Linked DNA regions of Homo sapiens: region 2 is linked to region 1. The links come from fine-mapping of genetic effects on gene expression. Tissue or cell type: whole blood. Region 1 holds a variant in brackets; the other region holds the start of a gene. All regions are shown on one strand. Distances are from middle to middle.

What was found. PIP is the estimated chance that this variant, and not a neighbour inherited with it, causes the effect.
Region 2: it holds the start of ARSB, and the variant in region 1 is fine-mapped to the expression of ARSB in whole blood (TOPMed, PIP 0.94).

Annotation. Positions count from the first base shown.
Region 1 is chr5:78,779,870-78,782,550 of GRCh38, forward strand. It overlaps ARSB (arylsulfatase B), which reads right to left. Exons shown (of 8, transcript NM_000046.5): 7 at 1,983-2,105; 8 at 1-793. The coding sequence ends at 528. Among named protein-coding and RNA genes, the nearest start is that of LHFPL2, 130 kb to the left of the region's middle. The variant G/A (reference allele first, on the strand shown) is at 1,010.
Region 2 is chr5:78,983,951-78,986,633 of GRCh38, forward strand. It overlaps ARSB (arylsulfatase B), which reads right to left and starts at 1,360. Exons shown (of 8, transcript NM_000046.5): 1 at 987-1,360. The coding sequence starts at 1,298. RefSeq lists a silencer at 683-1,542.

The DNA.
Region 1 (2,681 bases):
TGATGAGATAAGTGAGTAAGGGGTGAACCAAGAGGGGTGGTTCACTTGGAGTGCCTGAACATGATCCTTCACCGACAGGGAGAAGCCTTGGCCAACAGAACCATTAATCACTGTCTGCTCCCTTCATTTGCGTAAGAAATGTGATTCACTCCAATAAAACTGGCTATTGGCAGAGGGGAATCGAACGTCTGACTTGTGAGTCTAAAAGAGCCAGCTGTTCCAGCCTCCAGGATTCAGTGAGAACTTCCTATTTCAAGTTAAGTTCCCAGCTGTCCCAAGGCTTAGGAAAGGGGGATAAACCCAGCCACCCCCACCTCTAGACACATGCTCCAGCCAACAGCAGGAGTGTTGCAGATTTTATCAGCTTCTTAAATGCATTAGGGGTTGAAATTAGACACCTCGGTGTGGTTTAAGAGCAAGAGAAGGGCCAAGTGAACCCAGGTTGGGATAACAAATGAGACAAGAGTCGTGAGAAAAGGCCTGAGGTCCAACTTCCAATTGAAAGGTTTTCTAGCCTCCCTGAAATCCTACATCCAAGGGCCCCACACCCCAGTGGCCTTGGGATCACAGCGGGGGTCCTGTGCAGGGAAGTACACGGGGACTGAGTGTTTATGGTAGAACTGTAGGCGGGACAGGAGCTTTGTGACGATGTGAGGATATTCTCTGGACAGGTCATGTCTTTCTTCAGGGTCCCGATCAATATCAAAGAGCCAGAGGGTCTTGGTTGGTGGGTCTGATGAGGGTATCTCAGAAACATTGTATTGAGACGGTGGAGGGAACCAGTAACCACAGCCTAGCAAAGAAAACAAAACAGTTTACTGAGGGAGAAGCACAGAGGCAGGTTCTAATTTCAGGGAAGGAGTCTGAGGCCAAGGCTGCACTGGGTTGTGGGTGTGGAAACATAAAAAGATGCGGCCCTAGATGCTGTCTCTAGATGCTTCTCAGACTTGACTTCTGGTGCTTTAACTAGACATGTCTCACTGCTTCACAAGCAAGGACACCCAGAAAC[G/A]TGTGTGCATGTGTGTATGTCCTTGTCACAAGGACTAGGGCATAGGGGTGCTCCTGGCATTTAGTGGGCATGAGCTAGTGATGCTAAAGTCTTGCAATACATGGGACAATCCCAGTCAAAAAAGACTTGTCATATTGCAAACGCCAAAAATGTTCTCATTGTAAACATTGATTAATTACATCACAGCCTTAACCATCATCCCACATATTTTAAAAGTATTGAAAAGATATCACTCTTAGAGAATATAATCAGAGGAGCAACCTCCTTCCCCAGCTATACCACTGGTTGAGGGTGTAGCTCTCAGAGACTCTCTTTGTTAGCTAAATGTGCTGTGCTTGATAGCCACATATATTTAAAATCCGTATTTTCCATGAAGCATAAGAGTGACATTTCTTCCTTTCACCCCTGCTACAGTTAATTCTCTCTGTCTTTCTCTCTCTCTCTCTTTTTTTTTTTTTTTTTTTTTTTTTGGTTAGGACGAGTAGGTTAAACCATTTCTTCCTATCTCCTCATTCAGCAGCCCCAGAGATATGTTTTGCAAAAGGCATTTGTTACTTCGGTAAGCTTCTCCTTGATGATCCACTGGGAAAGCTTACTTGCACCATGACAATGATGGAAGCTGTGTAATTGGGAACAGGCGGAGTCTTAGAATTGGGAAAAGAAAACCCTGAATAAATAGTTGTCTTTCTAGGACATATATCAGGAGGGATCATGAAAGATTAGAAAGACAAATTAAGATTTCAGGTATCTGAGCAAAGTGAGGTAAGTGGTAGGGCTTAGGGGCCTTGAGGAGGAGCCACAGAGGAAGAGGTGGGAAACGGTTAGAACAAGAGTGATAATGTCCTCTCTTTCCAGAGAAATGGCCGTGGGAATCAAATCCCAGGAGGGCAGATAGACTGGAGATACTGCCCTGAGGACACAGCCCTGCTTTGTCTACCACGGGAAGGGAAGTTTGCTAAGCTAAGGACTCTACCTGGGTAGCCCGTGAGGAGTTTCCAATTTCCATGTCTAATTGCAGCATGGACAGATGTGTTAAAGGCTGAATATTCTGGAAGAGAAGAGTCATCCTTTGCTGGAGCCATGCTGTTCCTGGGACCTGGGAAGAAATAGTTTGAAAGAATTAGATCACTGTTATTGGAACGTGTTGTTATAAATCAGCATTTTATACCCTTGCAGAACAGTAGCTTTTATTCAACACTGGAGTGCAAATGTGTATCTTGCCACAGAAATGAATCTTTTATTAAATCCAAACAGAAAGCTATAGTTACATGAAATGTCAGTCATAAACCACCGCAAATATAAAGGAAATCCCAAAGAGATTACAACACTAATTCATCCTTAAAATCGCTATGTTCTGCCAATGTACAGCTAGCCATATGCAGAACAGTGTTCTGTTACAGCAGAGTGACTTTTTTTTGGTTTTTGTTTTTGGCTGTTAAACATTTAAACACACTTTCTGTGTATACTTATACCTATGTAAATAGTATAAGAAATTATAAAATGTACATTTTCATGCAGTCATTTCAAGCTATGAGAGTTCATGCATGCCATGATAGAGTACAAAGACTTATTTTTTAACAACTCTTAAGGAATCTAAAAGTGAGCAGTGCTCAGTTAACTATTCAGACAGGATAACTATGGGGGTAAGAACAAATTTGGTATACAAATTTTT
Region 2 (2,683 bases), 200 kb after region 1:
CCAACAGTTCCCATTTACTGTATTTAATATGGTCATAATAACTTCAGGGTCTTAGAAATATGACAATCGTATTCAGATTGAGGGGAAAAAAGGCCAATTTCATAAGCCCGGGACGACCAGTGGATGCAGGAAAAGCACAACGGACACTGCCTTGACCACTTTCTAGCTGTGCGATTCTTATGCCAACGAGCCTTTACAGGCTTCCTGCCTCGTCTGTAAAACGGGGTAAAAACAACTACCTCATGCACTGTTTCAATAATTCACTTTAAAAACAACAAAGTGCTATGCAAATGTTCTTGATATTCTTAGCCATCTAACATCTATGCACGCTCTACATTTATATTTCCTTCGTTAACTGTGGAGCCGTTCCTAAAGGGAAGCTTTTAAAGCGATAATGAAGATGCTCAGAAGAGTTCAATACAAGGTTACATGTGAAAGGAATGTCAGCAGCCTAAGAAAAATCAACCTAGCATCAGGTTTCATTCCAGGGGTGTTGAGAACCTGGAAAAAAATAATCTTTGGTGGGACACTCCTAACCTATCACCGCTGGGTTCCCACGGGCCAGGGTCGCACCCACGGCGAGCACCCCTTCATTTTACCTCTCCCCTCGTCTTTGCTCCCAGCCCACGCCCTCCCCAGCCTCCCACCTCAGGACCGCTCCGCCTGCCGGCCGCGGCGCCCAGCACCCGGCATTCCCATAAACCCCTTCGCCCGGAGCTTCAGAAAACGAAAGACAAAGCCACCCGCCCAACCCGGCGGCCGGGGCGCGGGTCCGCGGGGCGCCAGAGCCGGGCATGCGCAGAGGCCGCGGCGGGCTGCCGGCCTGGAAGAGCGAGGTTGGGGCGAGAAGCCGCCGGGACCCATAACTGGGTCGGCGGTCCGAGCCCCGCCTGCCAGCGCCCGCGGCCTCAAGGGCCGGGTAGGAGCGGCAGGGCGCCGGCGAAAGGCGGGGCGGGGGCGGCGCGGGCGGCGGGGGCGCCGCGTACCTGGTAGCGGCCAGTGAGCAGCTGGCTCCGCGACGGCGTGCACAGCGGCTGCGTGTAGTAGTTGTCCAGGAGCACCCCGCCGGCCGCCAGCGCGTCCAGGTGCGGCGTGCGGATGCGGGAGCCGTGGAAGCCGACGTCGTTCCAGCCTAGGTCGTCTGCCAGCAAGAAGACCAGGTGGGGCGGCCGGCTGGCCCCGGCGCCCGAGCCCGGCGGCGCCAACAACAGCAGCAGCAGCAGCGGGAGGACGACGGGGAGGAGCAGCCGCCGAGGTCCGGGGCCTCGGGGCAAGCTCGCCGCGCCGCGCGGACCCATCCTTGTCCGCCCGCGGTCCCAGCGCCTGTGGCGCCACCAGCCCCTTGTACCGCTGATAGAATGAGGAACTGGGCTGCCGGGGCCTGCTCCGCCCCGGCGCGGGACGGCACCCCCAGCGGGCCGTGGGCTTGCGAGGCCGGGCGCTCGGCCCCCGCCGCCTCCGACCCGGGCCCCCGGCTGCTGTGGCGGAGGAGGAGCCAGAGACGAACCCGCGGGCGCCCGCTGCCCGGCTTCTTGGAAACTCAGCTGACGCTTGGAGGGCACCAAGGCCCGTTATCTTCCCCGGCAATTAAATTTGCACTGTGGTTTCCTAAAAAAAAAAGATGTGTTCTTTAATAACGCTTCACAATTTACAAAGCATCTTCACAGCCCGCGTCTCCTGTAAAGCCTGCAACAACTCTGACAGTTAGACATTATAATTAGTGCCAATTTTTCATAAGAAAAAAGCTTATAAATGGTTAAACCTCTGACTCAGATCCTGAACCATGATGTCTAGCTAGCAAGTCATTTCTAGCACAAGAGCCCAGCCTGTGGCAGGTGGGAGGACGGTGAAAAGGCAGAGGTCTAAATAGCCTTTCACATTCATTTATGCGTAGTGTACACCCATGAAGCCGCTTCCTCCCCACTAGCAAACAGGAGGCCAAACACACAGTCTGATTGCACGGTGCCCTTTGGAAGGTGCGGTTACTTTCAAGTTGCCCTGGGAGGATTTGGAGTGTTGCGTGGTCATTGAATAAATAGCTCATTCGCTTGTCCGGATATGACCCCACTCAGAGCTGGCTCCCCCACTAAGCAGTGACACTAAGAAGCACACAGTATCTAGTTAGCCTGAAATATCTGAGTGGAAGGAAAAAATCCTTTAGTCACGTGCTTATTGAATTAGGAAGTTAGCCGTATGACCAGTAGATTCCCGTTGCCATCCAGACTTTCTGTCTACTCTGTCTGGAGATATTATAGTTGTTAACAGGTGTAGGGGAAAATTTTTGCATTGCCTAGAGACCATACCCTTCCAGGTTGAGTCTGATTCCGTGGAAGTTGTTTACAACTTTATAAGTTATAGATAAATAACAATGGAAAATAATTCTTATTTATATATACACAAATGAACTTTATCCAGCGGAGTAGCAATCCTTCCCCTCCACCACTACCAAGGAAAACAGTTTCACCTCCGCTTGCATATTTATTTTAGTATTCCTGATCTGTTCTTTGGATTGTCCTTTGAATTGGTTTTAACACCTTACCAATTTCCTTATTAATGAGTTAAATAAAATCATGTATTCACTTTTATATTTGTATGAGGGTCATGATTTTACCTTTTTTTCCCCAAGAATCCTTTAACACATGAAATGTTTGCCTCTTACATACACTTTTTTTCTTTGCATGAA